Linked DNA regions of Homo sapiens. The protein of the gene in region 3 interacts with the protein of the main gene of each other region in a biochemical or structural test. Each region holds a gene or a part of one and is shown on either strand. Other genes may lie near its edges.

Region 1 (7,288 bases), on a different chromosome or scaffold from region 3:
TATACATATGCCTTCATGTACACGTGCGTTTATATATGCAAGATACATTTATAGAAGTGGAAGTGCTAGGATTACATTTATAAAATGTATCAACCTTTTAAAAGTACATGCATCAAAATGTTTGATACATTTTTAAATGACAATTATTGCCAAATTGCTCTGTATCATGTCTGTGTGCGACAATTTACAATCCCGCTAATGATGTATGAAACCATTTGATTCTGTACACCCTTAATGAAACAGTGTGTTCCTTACACTTTTTATGTGTGCCCAACTCTTAGGTCACAGTGGGGTTTCAATATGATCTTAATTTACATTTATCTTTTTATGAGACATGTTGAGAATTTTATCATAGGAACTATTTGTATTTCCTTTTCTGAGAACTATCTGTTCACGACATTTGCCATTATTTTTTCTTGGGCTTGTTATTCTTTTTGTTCTTGATTAATATCTGGTGGGATATTTATTCCTACTTTTTTTTTCATTTGGACTGTTGAATTAGCTTGTTTACTTCTAAAAAAATTCTACTTTCATTGGGCTAAGTTACATTTATGGTTTAATTAAGAAAAACTGACATTTCAATGTCTCTTCCTGTATGAGAACAGGGCATATCTTTCCATTTATTCAAGACATAAAGTGGGTTTAAACAGGTACATTTTTAAAAGATGGCTACTTGTGGAGTCCAAATTGAGAAGGGCAAGAACGAAAGCAGGAAGACCAATTAAGTGGTCCTGCAGTGGCCCAGGAAAGAGATGATAGTGCTTAGGCTAGGGTTGGGGGTGGATAGATTTGAGATCTGTCCTGGAGGAAGCACCAATTAAACTTTCTCATGGATTGGATATGGGAGTAAGACCAAGGGAAGAATAAGGATGATGCCTAGGTTTTCAACTTGAGCCATTGAGGGACTAGTGATGCTGTGAGATACAGGAGACAGAAAGAGATCCTAGAAGAAGGCTTGCTTAGAAGCAAAGTCCCCAAGCCTCAAACTCCAGGGAGGCTGCCCACAGAAGCTCTTTCAGTGGAGACACAACCAACTGGAATCAATCAACTGTAATCACAACCAACCAGGGCCTTCATTAACCCATGTGGTACCTTGGTGTGAATTTAAAAATGGTGGCTTTTCTGGGAAGACAGAGGCCCAAAGGTACACTTGGCAAGGAGTATGCGAGTTGAGTTTTAGCCCCTACTTAGTCTCTTGACTGGGAGCTCCTGTGCTATGAGCAACCTGCAGGACCAGACCTGGAAGCCTTGGAACTAACCTCTGACTGGGGCATCTGACTCATCCACTCCTATACAGTACTACCCTGCTCCTTAAACTTACCCCAAAATGGCCCCTGACTCTAGTGTTCTGCTACTCAGGTAGATCCTCACCTCTACCTGTTTAGAGATCTGCCAGTTACAGTGAATCTGACTGCTGCCTGCTTACGCATTTCGGCAGTTGCCTTGCCTCTCCTAAACCTTGAATATGGTGCATAGAATAAAATATAAGCCTTAAGTCATCTTGGTTACCATAAATCTCAGAATGATGCTTTTTCGATACTTATGCAATTCCTATTGCCCAATTTGAAAATGTCCTGGTTCATTTGAAAACAGTCCAGTTAGCTGCATAGAGCAGCAAGCTGTAAATTGTATCTGAAAGACCGCTGGCTTCAAACCATTGGGATTCTGAGTCATCTGTTTGGTGGTCTGACTTTGATCCCAGCCTCCAGCCTCTGGGTCCCCCTGGTCTAGGTGACACCTCTCCAAACAGTGTTGAGCTTACTCCTCAAAGGCAGAGGACAGAAGCGGATTCTGAAAAACTCTGCGTTCAGTCTGACATTCCCTGTTCTTTTCCCGCACCTTCCCCATGAAATAGCAGACTCGAAAATAAAATTTACTCATGCCCTCATGACTGACTGACTACCCCCAACCCAGGGGGTTCTCCCGTCCTTAATCTCCTCCATTTTAGTTATACCATGGGGACTTCAGGTAGGCTGCAGGAGTAGATGCTGGCCCACATTTCCATCAGTCCTTGCTAGGGACAGTGTTACACTGCTTGGTAATTGATAAATCCCCACTCTGGGTGCACAGTCCCCTCTCCCCAACTGAGCTAAGATGTGGGCTATTGATGCTTTCATGCCCAGCCCAACCATGAATCAGTTGACTTCCAGTCAATCATTCCTCCTCGTACCCACCAGGAACAACACTAACAACTGAGGCAAGAATGCAAAGCCACAACCTAAAAGAAAACAGACACATTGTTCCATCTGATCTACTGACAGCTAAGACAGTCACTCCATGGAGTACACAGGAGATTCGCAGGCTGCTGCCAGGGCTCATTCTGTTCTTGTCTTTCCTATGACTTTACTCAGGATTCCATTATCAGCAACTTCACCCTCCAGCTCTCTCCATCCTCCTATGAAAGCCTCAGGGACATAGAAATAAGCTTGTCTTTGTAAAATGTGCCAGGATCTCCGTCTTAGATAAAAGACGACTATGAGAAAAGAAATTATTTCATTCCACTATGTTCCATTTGATTTCTGCTTTCAAGCAATAAACCACCATGGCTTGAGATGCTTCTAGTGTTTCATGGAGAATTGGGACTATTTCCCCAACATGCCCTGCTCTTCATTCCTCTTTGCTTCTTCCCTTTTTGACTCCTTGGACCCGAGGGGCGACCATGAGTGGCGAAATTTCTGACCAGCTAGAATACCAGGCAGGTGCAGGCTCTTGAAGCACCAAGACTGGCTCAAGAGATTGTAAATGGATCAGTCAAGTGCATGCACCACTGACGGCCAGTCAGGAGAGCTTCCATTTGTTAAAAATATAAAGGACATTCCTATCATCAAGCATCACAATTAGGCAATCTCAAAGAAAACAATATTAGCTCTACTTGGCCTATGTTACATGCTCTAAGAAAGTATTTTAGAAAAGTTTTTTTTTTCAACATAAATTTATTGAAGGATCAAACGTGTTCTCTTTCTTGGTCTCTTTAGCTCGTAAAGTCGTTTTGGGGATTTCGTGAATCTGGCAAATAAAACAAAACACCAATGAAACGCTGAGAAATGATTATTTCCCTTATGTATTTTAGCGGCCTCCAGGCAGACCTGATAAATATTCAGCGAGTGATTAGCTGGTGCATCCCCACCTGCGTCCTTTGCATAGCCATGCCCGCTACTCTTTCACAGGCAGTTTTACTTGGTAAGTTACAAACGTACTGGCTGCACTCTGCACCTGACAGTATTGCAGTAATTAGCTTGGGATGCAAAATGATTTCTAAATTAAGGTCCTGGACTTGTAAAATCAAGAAAGCCTGATAATCAACATCGTCGCTCTGGTGGCCATTGAATAACGGGATAAATACCTAAGACAAGTCCTTTAACCATCCCACGTGGTGATAAATGCCCGACGTACAAATTAAAAGTCTCTACCACACGCAGGTGAAATAAGGTATAGGTCAAGAAGAGAAGGTAGGGGAAAGGGTCAATGCTTAATTATTTAAAAATCGCTCTCTTCCTCCTGTAGGAAGGTCTAGGGGCTAGGTCTTTTAGTGCACACGTGATGAAAGTGACATTTTGGCCAGGTGAAACCTCAAGCTGGTACAGGCAGCTAAAACACGGGCGTCGTGCCCTGGAGACACCGGGGGTCCTGAGGATGGGGAAGGGGCTCCCTGCTGCGGGTGCTGAGGGGTTAGGAGGTGAGCACCGGGCGGGAGGCTCCGGGGCAGGGGCTGCGCGTGGAGCCCACTCCCGGACGCGGGCTCCTCTCGGCCCGGCACGGGTGGCGCAGGACTCCGAGCCCGTCGACAAGAGAGAGAGCGGGAGTGGGAGAAGGAAGACCGGGAGAGGAGGAGGCCGGGCGGCAAGAGCGGAAGAAGAGGAGGAGAACTGAGGCGGAGGAGGGCGAGAGGGAGGAGAGCCGGGCGCAGGAAGGGGAGGAAAGAAAAAGGCGGCGGAGGAGCGCGGACCCGCCACTCCCGGCCTCCTCCCCCGCATCCCCACTCGGGCCGGCCCTCCCCCGGCCGCCGCCGCCGCCGCCGCCGCCGCCGCCGCCGCCGCCGCCGCCTCCCCTTGCCCAGTGTTCCCAGCACCGCAAGGCACTCGCTGCCTCCTCCGCACTCGGTCCGGTCCGCTCAGCGCCGCCGCCGCCGCACCCTCGCCGCACCCCCGCGCGCGCCCGGCCCGCGCGCCCCCGCCGCTCGTCCTCGCGGCCTCGCGCTCGGGGCATGCGCGGTGGGCGGTGCCGCTCCGGGCCGCCTCTGCCGCCGCGAGTAGGAAGCGCGAGCGCCGGGCACCGGGCTGTCAGTGAGCCTGGGGCCAGCGGGCGAGCCAGCGGCTCCGGCTCCCGCTCCCGCTCCGCGCAGCACCAGCCCGACTCTCCCCGGCCCCCGCCGCGCCCCCTCGCCGCGACCTCGGCCACCGGCCCGCGCCCCGCGCCCGGGGTCGCCCCGAGCCCGCACCTCTCCCCCGCCGCCCCCGCCCACCCGGCCCTCCGCGGCCGCAGCTCCCCGGCGGAGGCAAGAGGTGGTTGGGGGGGACCATGGCTGACGTTTTCCCGGGCAACGACTCCACGGCGTCTCAGGACGTGGCCAACCGCTTCGCCCGCAAAGGGGCGCTGAGGCAGAAGAACGTGCACGAGGTGAAGGACCACAAATTCATCGCGCGCTTCTTCAAGCAGCCCACCTTCTGCAGCCACTGCACCGACTTCATCTGGTAGGTGCCGGGCCGGGCACTCCTGCCCCGCTCCTCCCCGCCTCCGGGTCCCGGCACCCGGCGCTCCGGCGCGTCCGCCCCGGGGCTGGCTCACTCCGATAACTTGGAACCGGCGGGAGTCCGAACTCTTCGCCCGGAGTGACACGCGCGCCCGGCCCTGACACCGGCGGGCAGGACTCCCGGGACGTCGCCGTCCCGCCACACACACCCCCTGGCGCGAGAGGGAGGCTGGCCCCGTACGGTGGCGAAGGGGATCCCTCTCCGGGCCGGGCCCCTCACCTCCCCGGGCGCGCCCACCCGCACGCACCCAGCGGAGCGGCCGCTTGCCGGGGTGTGAGCCCAGGGGACAGGGGAGGAGGAGAGGCCCTAAGGGGGCAAAGGTTCCCGGAGAAACGCGCCCCGGAGTAACGGGGGAGCGGCGGCGATTGCACTGCGCGCGGTCCAAGTTGCTGGCGAGCCAGGCTGGGCGCGTTCGGGGTGGGGGGGTTGTGTTTGTGCTTCCCATCGGGCTGGACTGCGCTGGCATCTTGGGCCCCTGCCTACTGTAGGCTGCATCTACTGGGCACGGAGAGACTGACTTTTCTGAGTGAGCAGAGAGAGAGAGAGCAAACTGTTGAAAGCTTGCAGTGGGGGAGGGGGAGTTCTAGCAGGCAAATGGCACAAGGGCAGAGGGACTCATTTAAAATAGACCCTGTCGGCCAGGCGCGGTGGCTCACGCCTGTAATCCCAGCACTTTGGGAGGCCGAGGCAGGCGGATCACCTAAGGTCAGTAGTTCGAGACCAGCCTGGCAAACATGGTGAAACCCCGTCTACTAAAAATACAAAATTAGCCGGGCGTGGTGGCACACGCCTGTAATCCCAGCTACTCGGGAGGCTGAGACGGGAGACTCGCTTGAACCCGGGAGGCGGAGGCTGCAGTGAGCCGAGATCGGGCCACTGCACTCCAGCCTGGGTGAGACAGAGCGAGATTCCGTCTCAAAAAAAATGAAACAGACCCTGTCAACTCGAGATTAGACCTGTAACCCTGTTGATGAGGGCAGAGGCCTTATTTAAGAAAAATAATATAAGGGCCAGAGGTCAGAGATCAGGTAATCGCCAATGAATTCAGGCATTCTTAACTCGGAGGGTCCCTGGGGGCTTATGGAGAATCGATACATAGAAGGGCTTCAGGGGTCTCTGAACCCTGTAAAACTGAGGGAAATTGTGTTTGTGAATCTTTTTCCTGGTGAGAGAATTACAGCTTTCATCTGATCCTCAAAAGGTGTGTGACCCTTCTTCCCAGATCCCCGTCACCACACAAAAGTTTTGAAAGCTGGAACTAAAGGAGCTCTAGGTCCTCTAGTTAGAGCAGCAGTAGTTTGGTTTTTCTTTTAAGTTGCCCGACGTCCTGACTCTTCTACCTCTTCTTTGTGGTGTAGGAAGTTCCGGGCAAGACAGAGCTATGGCTAGGGCTTCTTAGCTCCCTCTCCTTCTAGGCCAGGGGGAGCTGCACAGGGTGGCAGTCACGGAGTGAATCCTGCCACCAGCCAGCTGTGTGGCACAGGTATCTTGGGCCACTAGGGTGAGCATAGTATGGATGGCTCTGTCGGAATCCATCACACCTGGGGAAAAACATCCCAAAGGGCAGGTCCCATGATCGTGGTGCGAATAAGGTGTTTAATTTTTCCTTTCCTTTTTAGACATCTGCTCCCAAGTACACTTTTATGAAAAGCACAGCCACCTCTATGAGTGATTTCCACTGTCTAGTCGGCATATGAAGCGACTGTGCTCAAAGGAGTAGGTAGTCGTAGATAAGGCTATTTAAAATAAAAATTTCGGAGCATCAGGGCAAAGAGAATATTGCATTTGGTTAAGAGGAGGTCAGCTGTGAGAGTCCATTAAAAGGGAACAGACTGCTGGTGACTTTTGCAGGAAGTAGGAGAGTTAGAAAGGGACTTGCAGCATACTGAGGCTAGCTATTGTCTTTCCACTATCAGTTGCCCTTGAAGGATCAGCCCCTGGTGAGCTGAAGAGGCGCTCAGGTCACCACCAGTATTGTGAAGTGGAAAATGCCCCCCTGAGGATCCCTGCAGCACTCTGCATTTAATTGTAAACCAACCAATTGGAAGTCCCAGGAAACCATCCACGGGGATTGTCTTTTTCAGTTTGCTTTCATTATTGCTTCTACGGGGTCCTTGATTTACACGTTTATTTCAATATTAAATCACTGATATTTTTAAGCGAAATGTTTAGAGTTAGATATGGTTTTTAGTAGGGGGGATGACTCTAAGTTAATTTTAAAAGTATGTGAAATACTTTGTACATGAAACATTCTATGTGAAGCAAGAGATTATGACTCTCAACCTTCCGAAGAAATTTTAATGCAGTTCATTCTGGTAGAACAATACCTGCAATTGAACGTCCACGTCAGGGTTCTCTGCTTACAGAGTAAATTCTCTAAAGTCATGTACAAGAACAAAATAGCCTCCCTATGTGCTTTGAATGCTATTGGTTCTCAGTAGAAATTAGATCGTGGTCATCTCAAATGCAAACAATAGGAATTATATTTTCTAAGATCTGGTTTCTTAAGCCAACATTAAATGTTAAAAGTGATGCCG
Region 2 (7,020 bases), on a different chromosome or scaffold from region 3:
TGTGGCTGCCGGAAGAGTGGTGCTCACCCTGGACTGTGTCAGCCCCTTTTAGATGGGTTCTACAGCGGCCACGTGAGGATTGCAGCTAAAGAGAATCTGAAACGCAGCGGGCCCTTGGCCAGTAGGTCTCGCGGCTTGTTTTGTGGCAGTACTGAGGCAAATAGCTCAATAGCCCAATTCTCCTCTCCCTCTCATACCTTCCTTGTCTACCCTTCCGGATCTGTTCCTCAGGGAAGAGTGGCTCCTAATATATTTAGTCTCTGAAAATTAAATGTCCCAGGAGACTGTTCCGTTTAAAGGGAGTCTCTACGTTGACTCATAGCCAGAGTCAAAGACCCATGTGTTCCAGCTGAGCCCCAGGGTGTTGGGGGGGCCTAGCCCCAGGCATGCCTTCCAGACCCTCTTAGGGCCTTCTCTGCGGTTTTTGGGCCTCCTCTGCCTTGGGGTGAGCCCGATGGTTGTGGGTGTTCACCTCCCAGGCCCTTGTCTCCACAGGGAATCAGAACTTCGAGGAGTCCTCAGCCTATGGCAAGGCCATCCTGCCCCCGAGCCAGCCATGGGCCACGGAGTTGAGGAGCCACAGCACCCAGAGCGAGGCTGGGAGCCTGCCTGCCTTCACCGTGCCCCAGGCAGCTGCCCCGGGCAGCACCACCCCCAGTGCCACCAGCAGCAGCAGCAGCTGCTCCACGGTGAGCAGCCCTCTTATGGCGAGGACACAGAGAGGGCTCCGTATGTATGACTGCTGCCAGATGGCTGAAGGGACATTTGGGACAGGTACTGTCCTTCTCAGGTTATCACAGAGCCCCCTAGAGTGGCCGTGACACTTACCTACCAGGTATCAGAGCTGTTTTCTTCCTTTTAGTGTTCATCCCCCAACTCCATTGAAATAAGCTCCTTGAAGGGCTTTGAGCCCCCAGCTCAGTCCCCATACAGGGCAGTAACATCCCGTATGTGGCACAGAGCTGCACAGTTTGCACAGCCCTGCTGGCCACAGCCTGTATCCTGTTTGGTCCTCAAGACAGGACAACCTGTGAAGCGACAGTAGCCTCATTTTATGATGAGGAGACTGGAATTTAGAGAGGTTGATGAATTGACCTAATTCATACAGCTTGTTAATTAGCAGCCCCTCTACAAATAGTTGTGTGGTGGAATGGAATTGAACCTTTGGGTCCAGGAAGGTATTTCTTCTTCCATGCTGGACTTCTGGGGAGACCAGTGCCATATCTTTGACTCTGTCCCCCTCCTTCCTGGCCCCTAGCCCAATAGCCCTGAAGACTATTACACATCTTTGGATAACGACCTGAAGATTGAAGTGATTGAGAAGCTCTTCGCCATGGACACAGAGGCCAAGGACCAATGCAGTACCCAGGTAGATGGCTGTGGAGATCAGGCTAGGGTGTGTGCCTGCTGTCTGGTGGACAGCAAAGGCTCACATCCATTCTTGTAGCCTCATCCCTTTGTTGTAAAGAGCAGTGGAGACGTTTGGCCAAGGCCCAGGTCCCCTAAAGAGGTAGGGGTACAGGGTAATGGAGCCTGTGGTCACCCCCTCCTCCCACTGTCAAATCCAGCTCTTCCAGCATATGTGTCTCCTACTTAGATAGCTTTCTTAGCACACATGAAAACCGAAATGATACCACTGCACCTTTCTTTAAACAGGCCCTACATTTAACAAGCATAGCCAGATGTATAAAACATGTATAAACATAGGGGACAATTAATCCCTTTATAAACACATTCATCTTGTGATTTTAAAAAAATAATCATTTTTATATGAAATGCACTTTAAAATAAATAACATCTGTTTGACAATTTTTCATTTACATAAAACTTTTCAGGAACACATTTATTACATAAGGCCAATGTTCTTGCAAAAACTATGTAAACAAGGATAAGGTAGAGGGAGGGGTACGTGTTTTACAAAACCCCAGGGAAAACCATTAATCCCCCATTTGTCTTAGTCTTGAGTTCAACCAGATTTCTGCCTTGCCACTTAGTTTGTTTCTTGATCCTACTTGGCACAAATCCCAGCTACTCTGCAAAACATGCCCAATTTTAGCTTTTCTATCACCCTCCCTCCTCAGCACTCCTGTAGTATATATCATGTGGCACTTAATCACAGCTATCTGCTTCTGCTCCTTAAAGATTGCTTAGTATTGCAGTCATTAGTCAGCTGACACCCACTGAGGGTGTCAGTCTCTGAAGTTAGAAACTGTTTTCCGCATCTGCTTGTATTCCCCTGCTTGTATCATGCGTCCGTCATGATACTGCCACCCTAAGGGATGATCTGAGTATCTGCTGATTGGAACCAAAGTCTCTGTCCCTGGGGTCTGGCTGTTAGGCTGTTACTCTGCGAGAGTCCACAGATGGACCTGGGCACTTACTGCTTGCTTAGGCCCGTGCCAGCTTACAGGAGGGAGAAGAGGACAAAAAAAAGCCACAGTGTGCACCACAGGCCTAAGCATTGTAGGACAAGGATAACCACCACAGGCTGGAGTAGGCAGGGCTGACTCTGTGGAAGAGGGGCTGCCTCGGCTTCAAGAGAGAAGGCGGGCTCCGGACAGGTGGGATGGGGAGAGGAGAACATTTCTCAATGTGCAGGGTGAAGAGGGGATAAACATGGGGGAAGGCTGGTACATGATACAAGGTCGTGTACATGACACAGCCAAGTCTGAGGTTTTCCTGATAGGCCCTCGGGAGCCAGTGGAGGCGTTTGAGCAGCACTGTGAAACAGTGCTTGAGATGAATGGCTCTGCAGGAGCTGAGTTGGAATAGTGTTTGTGAGGTCGTACCAACCCCCTTGCCTCTTTGCCGGTGCTGTCTCCCCTCAGACGGATTTCAATGAGCTGGACTTGGAGACACTGGCACCCTATATCCCCATGGACGGGGAAGACTTCCAGCTAAGCCCCATCTGCCCCGAGGAGCGGCTCTTGGCGGAGAACCCACAGTCCACCCCCCAGCACTGCTTCAGTGCCATGACAAACATCTTCCAGCCACTGGCCCCTGTAGCCCCGCACAGTCCCTTCCTCCTGGACAAGTTTCAGCAGCAGCTGGAGAGCAAGAAGACAGAGCCCGAGCACCGGCCCATGTCCTCCATCTTCTTTGATGCCGGAAGCAAAGCATCCCTGCCACCGTGCTGTGGCCAGGCCAGCACCCCTCTCTCTTCCATGGGGGGCAGATCCAATACCCAGTGGCCCCCAGATCCACCATTACATTTTGGGCCCACAAAGTGGGCCGTCGGGGATCAGCGCACAGAGTTCTTGGGAGCAGCGCCGTTGGGGCCCCCTGTCTCTCCACCCCATGTCTCCACCTTCAAGACAAGGTAAGTGGCAGATACTCAGCTGTACCAGCAGGGCCGAACCGAGAGGCACCCACTAGTAAGATAGCTGGACCCCCAGGGAGGCCCCTGCCCCTCTCCCCAGCCATCTGATACCCCATTTAGCCCTTCTCTGAGCTCAGACTTTGGGGAATCACCTCAAGCCATGTGAGGCCTAGTGTAGGATGGGTTTTTATCTGGGCTGCCACTGAGGGCAGGCAAAGAAGTGGCTTGTTGAGAGCCCTGTACCTCAGTGTCTCCCTTCGGACCACCACCAGAGTGCCTTTCGTATCTCGGTTCATCATCTGAGCCACACAGAAAATTGAGTGATGATTTTCCCTGGTTGAAAACAGCAAAAAGATACCCCTGCCTCCCCTTGCCTTTTGGCTGCCCCCGGGTCCTCGCCACTGCAGCCTCTCCCAGCTGTGCCTAGGCTCCAGAAATGCCTTCCCATCTCCCCAGCATGCTCATTTCACCAGCTGCGAGCTCACTGGGCTAAGGCACAGGGGTTGGTACATGACCTGCCACTCCCAGGGGCCGCTGGTACTTGCCCTTTATAGAGCAGCCAAACTAGTTTTCAGTGGGAGCAAAAGGCAGAGGAGAGACATGGGCAGAAGAAACCCTCCTAAGGACTAACATTGCCCAGCCAGGCAGCCATCCCCCAGACCAGGAGGCTTGAGCCCTTCAGCATCTTATAGCTGAGGAAGGAGACAGAGCTCGAGCTCGGCCTGCAGGTGCACAGCCTGCCTCTGAGACTCTGCCTTTTGGGTCTTTGAGTCATCACAGGCATCAGCATTGGGACTGGAAGGGCCCCTAAGATGAGAAGGCACTGAGTGGCATGTGGCTCCAGACTCCCTCATAGCCTGCTCTCTCGGGCTTGGCAGGTCTGCAAAGGGTTTTGGGGCTCGAGGCCCAGACGTGCTGAGTCCGGCCATGGTAGCCCTCTCCAACAAGCTGAAGCTGAAGCGACAGCTGGAGTATGAAGAGCAAGCCTTCCAGGACCTGAGCGGGGTGAGTCATCCCCACTGGCCACAGGGGCCTCTCCATAGCCCTTAGGGAACCCAGGGCTGCTGAGAGGGGTGGGGATGTGGCCCTTCCAAGCCAGCATAGCCCTTAGGGAACCCAGGGCTGCTGAGAGGGGTGGGGATGTGGCCCTTCCAAGCCAGCAAGTGCCAGCCCTGTTCCAGGCCCACCCAACCCACCCAGTCTGGGGACCTGGTTCTCTGGCCATTTCCCCTTTCCATCTGCCCTTCTTACTCCCAGGGGGACCCACCTGGTGGCAGCACCTCACATTTGATGTGGAAACGGATGAAGAACCTCAGGGGTGGGAGCTGCCCTTTGATGCCGGACAAGCCACTGAGCGCAAATGTACCCAATGGTGAGCAGCGGCCACAGGCCTGGGCCTCCTGGGGGTTCTGGTGGAAGGACTGGGGCTCGGGAGCCCATCCTGGTTCTTCCATTCACCACAGGCCGTACCTGCCTCTCTGAGCCTTGTTAGAATGGGGCGATGTCCTCTGTCTCTCCCGCAGTCCCACACACCCAACTTTTCCATCTCCACTCTGACTTAGATGATGCCATCAGAGGGTCCTGAAGGTTGGCTGTAGTTCTGGTGACTCTGAGCACCTTTTATAAAGGAAAGGGATGCTAGGGCTTCCTGGCCTCTCCCCTCCCTCAGGCCAATGCTACCGTCACTCTCTGACTTTGGTCTTTCAGATAAGTTCACCCAAAACCCCATGAGGGGCCTGGGCCATCCCCTGAGACATCTGCCGCTGCCACAGCCTCCATCTGCCATCAGTCCCGGGGAGAACAGCAAGAGCAGGTTCCCCCCACAGTGCTACGCCACCCAGTACCAGGACTACAGCCTGTCGTCAGCCCACAAGGTGTCAGGTGGGTGTGCCCAGGATCTGTCACCCCCATCCCAGGATTCGATGCCAGGGGAAGCCCACGTCTACTTTTTTTCCAGCGTCTGCACAGTGCCAGGCACAGGGAGGTGCTTGACTTGAAGTCACCTATACAGGGCTCAGGTCTCCTTGGATTTAGGGAACCTCCTCACAAGTTCCTTGTGACATCAGTGATCAGGCCCCCCAGTGGGTGGGTCTGAGACACAGCTAAAAAACTCAAACTCAGGCTAGAATACTGAAGGAAAGAATGCAGACCACTACCGACTGCCCAAAGAGGACTGAACACTGAACACTGGGTTGGCGACCCCCAGAACACTGTACCACTGTTGACAGGAGCACTTTCAGAAGAAAGAGCAGGCGGCCACAGTGGTGAGGGCCTGTTGAAGAAGAGAAGAGAAAGTTCAGAGAGAGAGAGTTGGGAAGCGGTCTGGGCAGAGGCAGGGGATCTCCCGTCTATGCAAGGATGAGCTTGCTGCGTGGAGAAGGGAGTGCTCCTTCCCTGGGGCTTTAGGGAGAACCCTCCCATGATCAGGTGCCATCCAGGGCTCTTTCCACCCTGAGAATCCCGGAGCCTTGCCCCTTCCTCAGTTCTTCATGTGGATGTGTTTTGGGGTGTCACTCTGAGTTCAGGCAGGTGCTGAGAACATGCCAAAACTTCCTTCAGGTAGAACAGCCTGGAAAGCTCTGGTAGGCCCACCCCACTGGACTTGGTTCAACTGCAGGCACCAATGCCTGCCTTCAACCCTGGGCCACCTTCATCTTGACAGTATCTTGTGAAACATATATGTCTTCATGAGGTTTGTTTGGCCTGAAAATAATTCGTGGTTTATGGAAAAACATACCAGGCCCCTGTTCTAAAAGGCAATTTCCTCAGCAATAGAGTTTGGGGAAGGTTATAGTTCTGTGCTTCAGAGTCCAGGCTGTAGAAACACCAGACAGCCCTGGCTTAAATTCTGGCTCTGCTGTTGAGTTCAGGGGCTGGTATATATTTATGTGCAGTAAGAGGTAGCCAGCACTATTCTTCCTGTTATGTGAAGCCCACGAATTACCTTGAATATTGAAATCAAGGGAAAATCATATTCTTTTCAAAAGAGTTGAATCATATCAAACTCTTTTCTGACCATGAATAAGAGAAGTTAGCAAGGGATGGTGAGCAGGTATCCATTGATACTGTCCACAGGAGCAGTCAAGCTGGGGAGGCAGGCATGGACCCCAGCAAGGATCTGAGCTAGGAGGTGCAGGAGGCAATGGCCACTGGAACGAGGCTCTGCAGATAAGGGAAGGTGGGTGGGCATCTCCCATCGGAGGGGCAGAATGCAGGGCTTCCAGGCTCTCTGCTGCCACCTAAGCCTTTCCTCCTTGGGATGGGGGCCTGTGTGTGTGCTGCGAGTGTCCCCCCTGCCACTCCCTGGTCTGCCTCCTCGGCAAGAGAATAGCACAGAGGCAAGAAGAAAGGACTGCTGAGGGTGGTGACCAGAAACTGGATTTTCAGACTGTTGAATCTTGAGGCAGTCTGTGTTTGCATCTGTATGTATGTGTGTGTTCTGCATGTTCTGTGTATGTGAGCATAGGTGCCAGGTGGTTCAGCCTTTCCTCCCTGCTGCCAGGAGGCATGGGGGTCAGCAACCCCAGGCTCTTCCTGAAGCTTCCACATACCTGTGCTGCAGCCCGCACCTCACGCTTTCCTCTTTCTTGGGTCTCAGCACCCCACCTGAGGCAGTGGTTCTGGAGGCAGACACGTTCCCCGGGCATGCAGCAGGCCGTGGGACAGACACCACTGAAGGAGCAGAGTGAAATTAGGGCTGC
Region 3 (7,765 bases):
CTCAGCCCAGGGCTCACTCATCACAGCCACCCTCCCCCTTCTGCTTCTCCTGCCTTGGAGACAGGATGGATGGACTAGAAACATGGGCCAGCAAACAGGGATGGACGACAGGAGCACAGGGAAGGATGTGGACAGGGACAGACAGCAACAGAGAACGGCCAGGTGAACTGTGTGCCTATCTACATCCCCGTGCTTGGTCTGGGGCCACAGACTGACACCAGGAGGCCATGAACCCCACCAAGGTCCACGCTGTGAATGTCAGCAGCTCTCATGAGTTTAAGAGGGTTCCTGGCAAAGTCAAGAACCACTGTGGCGATGCTTGAAGGCAGCATGCTCGTTAAGAGTCATCACCACTCCCTAATCTCAAGTACCCAGGGACACAAACACGCAGAAGGCCGCAGGGTCCTCTGCCTAGGAAAACCAGAGACCTCTGTTCACTTGTTTATCTGCTGACCTTCCCTCCACTATTGTCCTGTGACCCTGCCAAATCCCCCTCTGCGAGAAACACCCAAGAATGATCAATAAAAAAAGAAAAGAAAAAAAAAAAAAAAAAAAAAAGAACCACTGTGGCTCCAGGACAAACTCCTAGCTTATCAGGTGCACACATTAAGGCCCGTAGGGAGGATAAAGACCCCCCCAAGTCCCCACAAGTAAGCATACCCACTCCACTGAACTGCCTAAACCTTCTGTGACCTCCCAGAAGCCTGTCTCCAAACCCACTGTGCTCAGAGCACTGAATGCTGCAAACCAGGGTGCTGCAAAGCCCCTCCAAAGAGGCCCCCACCTAGCCTTACCTTGGTGCGCCCGTTGATGACATAGCTGCCCAGCCGCCCTGCGCAGTGGCGGATGACGGCGTCCACATGGGCCATGAGGGCACCAATGCTTCGACAGCCTGGTTCATGGCCTTCCACCCAGGCAATCTGGTCCCCACGGATGCTGCGCGGCGGGATCGCCCTCTGGCTCACTAGCTGCCCGTCTCGCAGGCGCCCACCCCGTTTGAGGGCCTCCACCTCGGCCAGCACGCGACCGCCCAGTGCTGCCCCCAGGAAGCTGTCCTTGACGCAGATGCCGTAGTACCGCATGCAGGGCACGATATAGTCCAGGGCCAGGCGCTCGGGCGCAGAGGGCAGCGCCTCCTCCATCAGCCCAGCACTGGCCTCACCACTGCCACTGCTGCAGCTGCAGCTCATGCCACCCTCCCGCTCTGCCTCCTGGTTCTCTTGCCTGGCCCAGGGCCGTTTGCTGGGTGAAGGGGCATCCCCACCATCCTCGGCCCATTTCCGTTTGGGGGCCTCAGGCCGTGCGCCCTGGGCTGCCAATCGCTGGCACCCCTTGGTGACCAGCGCTGCAGCGCCTTCACTCTGCAGCGGCCGCAGCTCACCACCATCCTGCCCGCCAAAACCGTCCCGAAGAGGGCTGGCAGTGGTAGAGGTGGCTGTGGCTCTGGGGGTCCCACTCCCTGCCGAGGCCTCACTAGGCACTCCTGGACAGTGGTAGGAGGGGAGCAGGGGACAGGGCAGGTAACTCTCCACTCCCATCCTGGCCCGGCCAGGCTCAGGCTCCAAGGGCTCTGACGAAGACCCTGGTAACTGAGGGAGAGCCTGACTTAGGGGCTGCGGCTGGCACGGGCTGTCCATGGCAGCAGTGTCTTCATCCCCCGGGCATGGAGGGCACCGCCCGGGCCCATGGTGCCACCCTCCTCCGCCTCCTCCTCCGCCTCCACTTGATGCAGCTGGGGGCCACCGGGCCTGGCGTGGGGCAGGGTGAGGCAGGGCAGACAGCAAGAGCTCTTCTCGTGCCCTGGGGGTTGCTTGCTGGTCCCCAAGTCCTCTGCGGTCCCTAAGGGCTTGGGAAGGGACCCTTCAGGGTGGCTAGAGAAAGGAAAAAAAAAAAGGGATGTGAGAGAAACTAGAGACAGGCAGGCAGGGGAAAGCCGGGATGGTATGGGCAGGAGTGGGGAAGACGACCAGGACAGACTTGACTATAGAGGCCCCCCAAAACCTGAGGCCAAGTCGGGGAGAGGACCCTGAGAATCTGGAGGTGCGGGAGTCCGCTGACAGATAAGAGGCAGTGATAGGGAGAGGCTGGAGGCCAGGGGCTGGGTAGATGACCCTAAGACAGAGGACTGTGGTGCAGGTTGTGGGACGCGGTAACCAAAGACAGAAGAAGGAGGGCTGGAGTAGAAAAGGGTGGTGTGGAGGAGTGGGAAAGGAGGGGGTTTGGAAAATAGGAGGGACCTGCCTCGGCGTTCCAGAAAGACAACGAGAAACGTGGGGGTTCCAGGGAGAGTCAGGGTGGGGGCGGGGGGGTCAAAAGACAGAGGAAACTGGGGAGTCCAAAAACAAAGAGAACGAGGGGCCCAGAGACAGAAAAATAGACCGGAGGGAAGCTGGGAGGGAGGACCCGGGGCGGAGCGGGACGGTGGGGTCGACCCGAGCCCGACGGGAGGAAGCCGGCCGGGGGCGGACACACGCCCAGACGGAAGGGAGGTCCCGAGACTGACCGACGGGAGGGGCCCTCGGGGAGAGGGTCCGCGGCGACAGAGGAAAGGACGGAGGAGGGTGCACGCACCCGGAGACAGGACGAGAGATAAAGGTGCCCCCATCCAGGGCACCCCAACGCCCCCAACCCGGGGCAGGCCCTGAGGCCCCTTCTGAGCGCAGTAGGCGACAGGGGCAGGGCCTAAGGGCCGCTCGGACCCCCTCCCCTCCCCCTCCACTCGGCCTCCGCCCGGCGCGCGCTCCCCGCCCCCACCCCAACCCCCACAACGGCCGGCACCCAACGTAACCGGCGCGCGTCCCCTCCCCCGCGCCGCACCCACATCCCCCTTCCCGGGGTCGCCCCGGCAGGCCCCGGCGCGCGCCCCCACACCCCGCCCGGTTCGCGCCGGCGCCCCGGCTCCGGCTTAGTCTCCTCCCGCTCCCTTCTCGCCCCGCGACCTCCTCACCGAGCTTTTTCCTCCGGCCCCGGCGCCGCCGTTTGTGCCAGCCGCCCTGCGCCGCACAGCGCGCCATACCCCGCCCCCACCGCGCGCGACGCCCCGCCCCGCCTCGCCCGGTGGGCACGTGACCGCGCCCCGCGGAGGGGACGGCGCCTGCGCAGGCCCGAGCCGCGCGGGGCGGGGCGGAGCGGGGCGAGGAAGTTCGGGACAACCCCCCTACCAAGGAGAAAGGAAACAGCGGTCCGTGGCCTACACGAGGTTCATTTGCATCCTCCGCCCCGCCCCCTTTGCGCGGGAGGGGGAACGCAGTGTGAGGGGCCGGGTCTGGGAGGGGGCGTTTCTTGCATGTTGGAATCAAGTGGCGTCGGCGGGGCGGGGCACGCAAATGATGTGATTTACATGGACAGGCCTACCCGCCCCCCGCCCAGCGCGGGGCACCGAGTTCGGCAGCGCGGTGCGCGTGACTTCATTTACATGGTCAGCTCCTCCTCCTTCTCGCCGTCCAGGAACGGAGGTGAGAGACGGAGAAATGGCTACGCAGTTAGTTGAGAAATGTATGTAAATTCGCACGTCAGTAATTTACATAAGTATCTTTTATAACGGAGGCAAAAAAGTGCGGGTTGCCCTTGAGAAAAGGGAACGCGGACTAGAAGGGATGTGCAAATGTGTATTTTCAAGACCCGCTCCGGCCTGCCCCCTCGGGACGATTGTGGGAATCAGAATAAAGAACCAGGGAAAGTCTGGGCAACGGAGTGAGACCTTATCTTTACACAAAATTAAAAAATGAAACAAAAAAAAATCCACGGAACGCTACACAGAGAAGACATTTGCATGGCCAGCTGGGAACACTTTAGGAGACTAAGGAGATAAGGTCATTTTGAATGCCCTGCCCGCTCCACCATTGCTCTGGAGAGCTGGGACTCAAGGCTCCCGCCGGGTCGGTGAAGGCCGACGTGGAGATGGGAGGGCGACGAGCAACTGGGAGTGTCCTCGGGGCTGCACCAGTCCCCTGCAGGCCACCTGAGGGCGTAGGGCGGTTCGCGTGAGCACAAGGGCATGCATACTGGTATCCACACATGCGTGAGGATTGCACAAAAGCCCGCAGTCCTCAGGGCACACACAGGGTTCATGGCCACACAAGGGTGTTTCTAGTTTAGTTTTGTTTTTGAGATGGGGTCTTACCCTTTTGCCCAGGCTGAAGTGCTGTGGCATGATCATAGTTCACTGCAGGCCCAACCTCCCAACTAAAGTGATCCTCACACCTCAGCCTCCGGAATAGCTGGGACTTCAGGTGTGTACCACGACACCTGGCTAACTTTTTCTGTTTTTTATTTTTGTAGATAGGGTCTCTCTGTGTTGCCCAGGCTATAGTCTCCAACTCCTGGGCTCAAGTGATCCATCTGCCTTGGCCTCCCGAAGTGCTGGGATTACAGGCATGAGCCACCACGCCTGGCCACACATGGGTGTTTAAAAGGAGCCAAATTCACACCAAAACACACACAGACCTCGGGGTACACATGCACAGGCACACACGCAGTAGTGAGTCACTGCCTCTGACTCTCAGGCATCAGACATGCACACACCGGAGGCCCACCTATAGGTCCAAATTCCCATCCCCTGGCCTTGATGTCCCAAACAATACCAGCCTCACCAATACAATGACCAAGGCCACAGAGCAGTTACGGCTGTCAGCATCACACACAACCAGCACACATTATATCCTATAGACATCATCCCATATGCAGGTACTGGAAACATGTACACATGTCACAAACACAGGGACATCAGCGTGTTTACACACGTGAGCTTAGAACACAGATTGTCACAAACTGTCCACACAGTAACAAATTCCCTCCCTCCGCAACAGGCACCTGAGTCATCATGCTTGGTATACCCCACACCACGTCCAATCAGGAAACAAGGCCCCCAAGGCCAGGCCCAGTGGCTCACACCTGTAATTCCAGCACTTTGGGAGGCCAGCGCGGGCGAATCACCTGAGGTTGGGAGTTCGAGACCAACCTTGACCAACATGGAGAAACTCCATCTCTACTAAAAATACAAAATTAGCCAAGTGTGGTGGCACATGCCTGTAATCCCAGCTACTCGGGAGGCTGAGGCAGGAGAATAGCTTGAACCCGGGAGGTGGAGGTTGTGGTGAGCCAAGATCACGCCACTGCACTCCAGCCTGGGCAACAAGAAGGAAACTCCATCTCAACAACAACAACAAAAAAACAGAAACAAGGCCCCCAAACACCATGACACATGATTCTTCCATCAGGGACCTCTTCCATCTCCCTGCCATCTCACAATAATGGAGGCCAAGACACAGGTGTAAACAATGCTTTATGGGGGTAGGGTGGGTGCTGGACAGGCCTCCAGGTAATAAATAACAGGTACTAGCAACAGCAGGGCCAGATGGGGAGTTGGGGACAAATGACCCTGGTCTCAGGCTTTGGGAGCTCTTGGGGTATGGTTAGGGGTTCAGGGGGACAGACGTTAGCCAAGACAGAGGAAGCAGCAGCAGGTACGGGATTCCCCCTTCCCCCGTGGCTCAGTCTTGCCCCAAAGCCAGGCCCCACCAGGCCAGGGAAGGGGGACAGGTGGCAACGTAGCTTCTCCGGGGCCAGGGCAGGTTAGGACACGGCCTCTCAGAGCCTGGGCCTGGGCCCCAGCAGGGCTGGTCCTGGAGAACAGGTGAGCTGAAAGAGAAGGGTGTGGTGACCTGCAGGGTCCCCGGGGTCTGTCCAGCCGGTCTCTATCTCATTTCCAGGTATTTCCTTCCCCTCCTATCTGCATCGGTCTGTCCATACCTTTCTTCTCCCGGTTTCTACATTGTCTGATTTTCCGCCTCTCCCCTGCAGGTAATTTGGGGCTTGTGCTGAGGGTACCTGCATCTCCCTCTTTGTTTGCCTCAGAGAGCTGTCTGAGTCTGTAAAGCCACATTTCAACATCTAAATATCATGAATCTGGATGGACGCAGTGGCTCACGCCTGTAATCCCAGCACTGTGGGAAGCCAAGGCAGGAGGAATGCTTGAGCCCAGGAGTTTGAGACCAGCTTAGGCAACACCACGAAACCCCGTCTCTACAAAAACATACAAACATTAGCCAGGTGTAGTGGCATGCACCAGTAGTCCCAGCTACCTGGGGGGCTGAGGTGGGAACATCGCTTGAGCCTGAGAGGTGGAGATTGCAGTGAGCCAAGATTGTGCCACTGCACTCCAGCCTAGGCAACAGAGTGAGACTGTCTCAAAAAAATAAATAGGCCGGGCGCGGTGGCTCATGCCTGTAATCCCAGCACTTTGGGAGGCCGAGGCGGGCAGATCACCTGAAGTCGGGAGTTCCAGACCAGCCTGACCAACATGGAGAAACCTCATCTCCACTAAAAATACAAAATTAGCCAGGTGTGGTGGCACATGCCTGTAATCCCAGCTACTCAGTAGGCTGAGGCAGGAGAATCTTGTAAACCCAGGAGGCAGAAGTTACGGTGAGCTGACATTGCACTATTGCACTCCAACCTGGGCAACAAGAGCGAAACTCCATCTCAAAATAAATAAATAAATAAATAAATAAATCGGCCAGGCACGGTGGCTCACGCCTGTAATCCCAGCACTTTGGGAGGCCGAGACAGGCAGATCACAAGGTCAGGAGTTCAGACCGCCCTGGCCAATGGTGAAACCCCGTCTCTACTAAAAATACAAAAATTAGCCAGGCGTGGTGGTAGGTGCCTGTAGTCCCAGCTACTTGGGAGGCTGAGGCAGGAGAATCACTTGAACCCAGGAGGCGGAGGTTGCAGTGAGCCAAGATCACACCACTGCACTCCAGCCCGGGCAACAGAGGGACACTCCATCTCAAAAAATTTAAATAAATAAATAAATAAATAAATAAATAAATAAATAAAATGAACCTGCCTTTGTATCTTTCTGTGTCCCTCTATGTTCCTGGATCACCCTGGCTCTAAGTCTCATTTCACTGTTCCCCAAGCTGGGGAGACAACGTTAGGTTAGTGGTTCTCACTTTGGTTGTATATAGCATTACCTGGGAGCTTCCAGAAATCCTGCAACTGGCTGGCTCACATCTTTTTTTTTTTTTTTTTTTTTTGGAGATGGAGCCTCGCTCTATTGCCTGGGCTGAAGTGCAGTGGCGCGATCTAGGCTCACTGCAAGCTCCGCCTCCTGCGTTCACGCCATTCTCCTGCCTCAGCCTCCTGAGTAGCTGGAACTACAGGCACTTGCCACCACGCCTGGCTAATTTTTTTTTTTTTTTTTTTTTTGTATTTTTAGTAGAGACGGGGTTTCACTTGATCTACAGATCAAGCCAGGATGGTCTTCATCTCCTGACCTTGTGATCCGCCTGCCTCAGCCCCCCAAAGTGCTGGGATCACAGGCGTGAGCCACCATGCCCAGCCTGGCACACGTCTTTAATCCCAGCACTTTGGGAGGCCAAGGTGGGAGAAATCGTTTGAGGCCAGGAGTTTGAGACCAGCCTGGGCAACATAGTGAGACCTCATCTCTATTTATCTTTTAATTAAGAAAAAGTCCTGAAACCACTTCAGAATCTCTAGGGTGAGGCCTGGGCATCAGTATCTTTTAAAATTCTCCAGGTCATTCTAATGTGTGTCACTGCCTTGGTGGGGAAATCAGTTTGGTGGGTCTTGACCAATTTTTAAATTCAAACAGAATAGCACAGAACGGCAAATACCAGAGTGCATCATATATAATAAGAATATTCTATTGGTTGGGCAGGCACAGTGGCTCACACCTATAATCCTAGCACTTTGGGAGGCAAGGGCAAGAGAGGATCACTTGGGCCCAGGAGTTCAAGAC
Region 4 (7,320 bases), on a different chromosome or scaffold from region 3:
AAGTACACAGTGTCATCAAGACTCCTGCAATGGGCTAAGTGCTTCACAAGCATTATCTCATTTAACCTTTACAATAACTGCTCAGATGGCTGCTATTCTTATCATCATTTCAAAAGGAGGAAAGAGGCTCAGAGGCATTCAGTAACTTGCTCAAGCTCACAAGTGAAGGGCTGGGACCCTTAACTCAGAGGTATCTGCCTCTAGATCCTATGCTCTTAACCACCATATGCTGCTTCCTCAAACAAAAGGACAATCAAAATAGAATCATAAGGAGAAAAGTTTGCTAATAAATGAGAGAGCTTCTTGACTTTTAATGGCCAAAGTTAATGAAGGAAATTAAGGAATATCTATTCTCAGAAATTTTACTTTAATGATTCAGTAATTATTTGTTTTGGAAAACTCTGAAGGAGTCTGGCCTGAAGCCTGAAACAGAATCATTACTCTCTTGACATTCCCTTAAAAATCTAAAAATCAAAATGCACGTGCTATTAAATAAGTTCAGCCCCTATAACTAGGAACAACATGAAATGTCCTGCGTTAAATCTACAGTATCATAACCATACCCATTTTCTATTCTGATTTCTTCCAATTCTTCAGGTTTTGAGTTTCCTAGACCTTCTTTTAAAAAGACAAATTTGTTTTCCAAACTCCGACATTGGGAGCTCATTTAAAATGAAAAAAAAAATTGCTTGAAGAAAATCTCCGTCCCTCAACCTCTCAGTTATCTTTCAAAAAACTGTAAATTAGTTAGAAAAGGTCATCTATTATAAACAGCATCTAAAAGTGCTGAGTAACCACCACTTATTAAGTGTTTAACTTAATTTTTCAGTTATATCAAGAACTTCTATACTAAGAAATATGAATCCATCCAATCCAAGGTTGCCAAGTTTTCAAATGAGAAAATTTTGAAAGTAACAGATGGGCTGAGGAAAATCTAAGAGCTTATTTAGAATTGGGGCTGATGAACAGTAGCTAATTTATTAATTCGTTTCAAAACTGCTTCTGATATTCTGAACGGATGAATGGCAAAACAATGAGTTCGATACTGTATATAAAAAAAGTGGTACATAATTTAATGCATTGTATTAAGTATGATTCAATATATAATAAGGATAGAAAACTGGCACTACACAGAGGTAATCTGCCTTAGGTTTACAATATAGCAGCTTTATCATTTCATCAAAAGCACTGTAATCACCTCCGCAAAATAAACTGCAATTAATTCCTGGTAACTCTTGGAATTAATCTAGACCTGTTTGCTCACTTTTTGAATTTTATAAGTGACCTTCTCTGCTGTATACAAACTAAGAATTTAATATTCTATTGAAGAAGGACCAGGAGAAGGGATCTACAAAACAGCAGGAATATAAACAAGTTTATCTTCTGCTGATACTGATTAGGGAAATTAATCTCTCTGCCAGAAGAGTGGAAGGATTTAACAGCAAAGCCAGTCTACTAACCAAAACTCTTACTCTAAATCTTCAATTCCTTAAGTGATTTCCTTAAAAGTTAAAATGCCAAAGTGGGCAAAATTGTGTGTGTGTTGGGGGATGGGGGAGTCCGCTCTTAACACCACTGGTCCAACTCACAATTCTTAATCTCTAATGTACCCCTTAGACTCAAACTTCAAGGTGATTTATAAAACTTGCATTAAGTTCTAACCGAGTGATTACTTACTTTAGATATATGTTGACGGTTTTCCTTTAATATACTTCAATTTCAGGAAAATGAGACAGAGTTCGAAAATTTTTGCAACATTTTAGTGCCGCATTTCATTCACTCATCATATACTTTTTTCAGTATCATTAAAACTGCCTAAATTTAACCAGCCCCTACATTTTCATTATTTGAAGAATGAATGAGGCATATATTCATTTATAATATCTGCGTTCTCGTGACAGGTGATATGAACTCAAGTATCCAATTCTGAAGTTCTCTTTAAAATGTTGCCATTTCCCTAAATTCCCATTACTCTGACTCTCAGTCTAGGCAAGTTTTTCAAGGCGATTAAAACGAAACAAAACCTGCACGTGCAAACTAAAAAGTTCGCATCTTAAGGCCATCGCGGCAAATCCCTAATGCACAAAGGCAAAGACACCCGCGACGGCTGGACAACTACAGGACAAGATCGCATCCGACCACGCGAGTCCCTCAGTCGGGAACTCAAGGCCCCAAGTCCACTGGAAAGCCAGGACCAGCGTGCAGGGTCCGCCCCAGGGCCGAGTTTTCAATGGAACTGGAGAGGATGGGGGCGGGAAGGAGCGGAAGCTCCGGGTGCAAACCGCGGCTACCGAGCTGCAGCTCATTTCTCTTCCCGGGGTTTTCAGGCTGGGTAAAGTCCCCTCCGGATGGGGCCACAGAGCAGGCTGGGTTTTTGAGGCGGGTAGGTGGGCGGCGCGAGGCCCCCACGGCCGGCGGGGAGGGCAAGCAGGGCTCAGACCCCGGCCCCTGAAAGCACTTTCGAGGCGTCTCCCACCCCCCACGACAAGATGGCGACGTGGACAGCGGGGGAGCCCGGCCGGCGAGGTTGGGGGAAGAGAGGGGAGGGGAGCAGCAGCAGAAACAAAAAGGCTGCCCCCCCCAATCCCATTAACGCCGAGGCCGGCCCAGGAGCCCAGGGCGGGCAGGCGGGCGGGGTCGCCGGGGGAGAAGGCGGCGGGCCGAGGGAATGGGCTTACTTTTTCTTGTCGTTCGCGCCGCCGGCGCCCTCCATGGTGAATCGGTCCCCGCGATGTCTTCACGGCGGGCGGCCCCCAGGCTCGCTCCGGCCTAAGCGCTGGCTCCCTCCACACGCGGAGAAGAGAAGGAAAGGCAAGTCCAGAGGTGGGGGTGCGAGGCGGGAAACCCCTCGTGAGACTAGAGAGAAGCGGGCGGCAATCGCCGGGGTCCGGGCCCGGCTCCGAGCCTCTCCTCAGGTGGCTTGTCAGGGCCCAGCCCGACACACTGGCCGAAGCGACGAAGAGGGTGATCCTCCTGTCCCCTCAGACGAGGCAGCACTGTGCACTGAGGAGCTGAGGCAGCGTCAGGGGGCGGGCAAGGGCGGAGGCGCGCTCGGGCGCGCGGGGAGGGGAGAGGGGGCGGGAGCGCGCCCGCTCGCCTGCCCAGGCCGGCGCGCGCTCCCGCAAGCCCGCCTCACCTGAGGTGGAGGCGGGTTCCTCGAGATCCAATGGCGAGCGACGCAGGCGGCAAGTCCCCACCCCAGCCCACGCCGCTCTCAGCCAATCAGGAGGCGGTCAGCTGAGGCACAGCTGGGACGGGCTGCGACGCTCACGTGCTCGTCTGTGTTTAGCGGCGGAGGAAAGAGAAAGGAGATGGGGGTGCGGCTCAGCCCGAGTCTGGGGACTCTGCGCCTTCTCCGAAGGAAGGCGGTGCCCGGCTTTGGGAGGCGCTGCTGAGAAGGGATTTCGGTTGCCTGGTCCCAAACATGCATCATATTTTCCTACTCTTGGTGCAGTAATGTAATGCTCCTGCTCTCTTTCTCCTCGGCCTCAGTGCTGGGCACGATTGCCGCCCAACTCTGCTGGGCTCTCTGTTCAAAAAAGCAGACTTCGCCTCGTGGCAGCAAGCCCTTCCTTTGGTCTCGTTGCTCAGATGTGTTACAACGGGGTCTTTCCTTACCAGATTACCTAACCATGGGTCAATGTCACCCACCGCACTCTTTGCCACGGAGCACAGGGGAACTCACCTTGTCTACTAAGTTTTTCTGTGGCGGAGTTTACTTACTGAATAAATGCAATTAAAAATAAAAATGAACTCCTGTTGCTGTAAACTTCAAGGGAAATAAAGTTGCAGGGAAATCTTAAAATCTGAAACTATGTTAAGCATTTGCAAATAGGTATAAATGACTTTAATAAGCATATAAACCAATTTCAGGGAAAGAGTAGAAAAAATGGCCTTTGGCAACTTTGCAAGCTACTAAACAAAACATAATCACTTTTGTCTTTGGAGGCATAAACTTCAAGCCTGTCAGTCTTCTAAAAGAAAAATATGTTTTGAGCCCAACAAAGTAGCATTGCACATATATCTCCACTTGGCGCTAAATTATTTTACTTCTCACCTTTGCCTTATGAGTTTCTTGTTAAAACCTAGCTTTGGGTTGTAAATATAAATATCTGTAGTGGCTTTCAATTGTATTAGCATGTAAAAACAATGGTCTATATAGAAGCATCAAACTCTGACAAGACAACAACCAATGTATACAGCACCTCTTTTTAACTGGTCAGTAGACCTACAAAGATACGATTAAACATTGACCTTAGCGGACAGGGTGGTTCCAGCTACTCAGAGGTGTGAGGCTGGAGAAGCCTGGGTGTTCCAGCCTAGGGAACGTAGCGAGACTCCGTCTCTTTAGAAAATTTTTGATCTTCACGCTACTTTTGTTTTTTCAGATCTACAACACTAAATGATATGTATTATGTCTTGAAAAGAACCATGGGAAATGCCTGAAGAGAAGAAAGAACTAAAAATAATTACTCATAATTTCTTTTTTAATTGTGGAAAGAATACTGTAAATTAAAAACTTTTTAGTTTAACATTCTCAAGATACTGTGTTAAGAACACTGGCTCCAGAATCAAGCGTGAGCTTGTACACAGGCTTTGAATCTTACTGGCAAGTCGTTTAATCTCTCCATAACTCAGTTTACTTATTTATAAAATGGATATAAAAGTGTCTATACCACAGTATTATGGATGGTTAAATGAGATAATAAATGTATACTTAGAACAATATCTGGTGCATAGTAAGCACTCAGTAAATGTTAGCTCTTAGTATTGTTGGTGGCGTTATTATTATTATCATTATTATTATTCTGAGGCGGAGTCTCGCTCTGGCCCACAGGCTGGAGCGCAGTGGCGCGATTTCGGCTCACTGCAACTCCGCCTCCCAGGTACAAGTGATTCTCCTGCCTCAGCCTCCCAAGTAGCTGGGATTACAGGCACGCACCACCACACTCGGATAATTTTTCTATTTTTAGTAGAGACGAGGTTTCACCATGTTGGCCAGGCTGCTCTCGAACTCCTGACCTCAGGTGGTCCGCTCGCCTCGGGTTCCCAAAGTGCTGGGATTACAGGCATGAGCCACAGTGCCTGGCCTATCATCATTATTATTGCCCTCAAATTTATTCCTCTGTTAACAGTAATTACTCGGGCTTCTCCTACAGTTTAGCCATTTTTAACTATCCAAGAATACCAATTATGTTAATATAAATCCACATATATTCTCTATTTTCAACTTTGGAACTGCCCATCGTGTTCCCACCCTCATTTATGAGGATAGCTGCAGAGATCTTCCATCATTTCCCTTTTCATTATACTTATAGCAATTATCTCTGGCCAGTGATTATAGTATATAATGTTTGTGACATCAAAAGACAAGCATTTTGTAACAGTAAATCTAAGTCATTTAAAATTTTTTTGGATCATTTCAAAAGTTTAAAGCAGAATGATAATTTGATCAGCAAAAAAATTTTTGAATATTCATTAAATATGCCCTTAAGTTAATTTTCCTTTTCAAAAATGTATAAAATATATGTTTATGTATATGTGTATACACAAATATAAATATGAAAATGGAAAGGAAAGTAGTATATGTGTATATATATATATGTCTATACAAATATAAATATGAACATGGAAAGCAGTAATATTCAACCAACTAATTTTCATATAGTTACAAAGGCACCAAATAGTATCCCCTAATTCAAACAATCCTATTAAATAACAGACACCAAAAAGGAAAATTTCATATAGGATAAAATTTTAAATCCCTCTCTCTACAACCACTTAACAAATGCATTTAGGTTATTACTATGTAAGTATATCTTAACAAACAGTCATTTAATCACTTTCTAACTTTGCAGAACTTTCTGAGTAGACTACAAGATTACTTGCAAATGACCCCATTGACCCTTAGCCCGTATTTATTAGGAAATTGGGCAGTGAATCAGGAGGTTAAGTAAAACTTGAAATTTTGATTACTACTAAATAATACAGAGCATTGAGCCTTTTGAAGGTGAAATGCATCAGATGCACACAATTTATAGGGTATCAAACTATACAAGAAGACCTAGTATTCAGTAAGTGATTCCTGGCCTATTACTACCCTTAGTTGTTTCTTTTTCTTTAAGCTATTCATAACGAGAACAATGGCAGCAAAAGGGTATTGTTTGGAAGGAAAGTGCGTACAAGATAAGAGGCATTAAAAATCTTTGTTTTTTCCTTTCAAGAATCAAGACACAAAGTATCTGTGATTCCAACATTTTGGGAGGCTGAGGCAGGAGGATCACTTGAGGCCAAGAGTTTGAGACCAGCCTGGGCAACAAAGTGAAACTCCCATCTCTACAAAAAATTTTAAAAATTAGCTGGGCTTGGTGGTTAGTGCCTGTAGTCGTAGCTACTCTGAAGGCTAAAGCGGGAGGATCACTTTCTCCCAGGAGTTCGAGGCTGCAGAGATGTACGATTGTGCCACTGCACTCCAGCCTTGACAGAGCAAGACCCTATATCTTAAAAAAAAACACAAAAAACAAACAACAACAAAACCCACACACACAGACACACAAAATAAAATGTATATTTATCTGAGTTTAGGGGGAATATAAACAGACTGAAAATTTGATATTAGCACTTTTCAATTATGATAAATATTTTTAAGATGAATTTACAAAGGAACACCAAGGGGCTTTCAGTTTCCTGTTCAACATGTAAAGAGCTTGGAAGTTGTCACTCCCATCCTCACAACAAGAAAAAAAAAAGCTAAGCAAACTGAAATCAGTAACTCTTCTTAGATCCACCAGAGAATTGAGGTCACAGGAAAAACCACTGCCCTAAAAACTAGAGAGACAGACAGATAGATACAGAGAATCACAGCTTTTCAGAGAATCACAGTTTACCAGGAGCAGAGCCCAGGCACAGAAGCCAGAAGCTGAAGCTAGTTTCACAGCTGGAGCCAACATCAGTAGGAACACTAAACTGTAATTGGGGAATTGCTGGAGGCTCAGTGCAGACTAGCTTGAGAGTTAAAAAACTCCAAGGAGGCTCAGTCTGAGAGGGGCCTCAATACTTACCTCAGTTTTACCTCTGTGAATCCTGTCAGATTCTCACTGTAAAGATCTGAGAAAAATCTGCTTTGCTTTTGCCAGGGAGAAGGGGTAAGTAACCATCGTGAAATACTCTCAGGGCTCTCTGTTCTTCTTAACAAGACCTGGCCTCAAGGGAAACTCTCTATCAGAGCCTAACCAGATGAATCTACCAAAGGCTAACCAATCTGGAGGAAGGGAAATTACCAACTCTGGTCAGCTCTAGCCTTCCACAGGGGAGAAGGGA

The links.
Region 1: of the proteins of EGLN2 (region 3) and PRKCA, one has a biochemical effect on the other in vitro, tested with the Homo sapiens proteins (one study listed by BioGRID).
Region 2: the proteins of EGLN2 (region 3) and EPAS1 form a complex in vitro, tested with the Homo sapiens proteins (one study listed by BioGRID).
Region 4: the proteins of EGLN2 (region 3) and HIF1A form a complex in vitro, tested with the Homo sapiens proteins (3 studies listed by BioGRID, with this or other methods).

The regions. Positions count from the first base shown.
Region 1 is NC_000017.11:66,298,334-66,305,621, forward strand, and holds the start of PRKCA (protein kinase C alpha type), read left to right. Parts: upstream 1-4,279; 5' UTR 4,280-4,518; coding exon 4,519-4,691; intron 4,692-7,288. UniProt on the Homo sapiens protein: Calcium-activated, phospholipid- and diacylglycerol (DAG)-dependent serine/threonine-protein kinase that is involved in positive and negative regulation of cell proliferation, apoptosis, differentiation, migration and adhesion, tumorigenesis, cardiac hypertrophy, angiogenesis, platelet function and inflammation, by directly phosphorylating targets such as RAF1, BCL2, CSPG4, TNNT2/CTNT, or activating signaling cascade involving MAPK1/3 (ERK1/2) and RAP1GAP.
Region 2 is NC_000002.12:46,377,399-46,384,418, forward strand, and holds part of EPAS1 (endothelial PAS domain-containing protein 1), read left to right. Parts: intron 1-495; coding exon 496-689; intron 690-1,258; coding exon 1,259-1,369; intron 1,370-2,828; coding exon 2,829-3,319; intron 3,320-4,197; coding exon 4,198-4,324; intron 4,325-4,576; coding exon 4,577-4,691; intron 4,692-5,026; coding exon 5,027-5,200; intron 5,201-7,020.
Region 3 is NC_000019.10:40,794,445-40,802,209, reverse strand, and holds the start of EGLN2 (prolyl hydroxylase EGLN2), read right to left. Parts: upstream 3,020-7,765; 5' UTR 2,948-3,019; intron 2,689-2,947; exon of another isoform or gene 2,572-2,688; intron 1,872-2,571; 5' UTR 1,638-1,871; coding exon 795-1,637; intron 1-794. UniProt on the Homo sapiens protein: Prolyl hydroxylase that mediates hydroxylation of proline residues in target proteins, such as ATF4, IKBKB, CEP192 and HIF1A. Target proteins are preferentially recognized via a LXXLAP motif.
Region 4 is NC_000014.9:61,691,198-61,698,517, reverse strand, and holds the start of HIF1A (hypoxia-inducible factor 1-alpha), read right to left. Parts: upstream 3,006-7,320; 5' UTR 2,714-3,005; coding exon 2,679-2,713; intron 807-2,678; exon of another isoform or gene 668-806; coding exon of another isoform or gene 564-667; intron 1-563.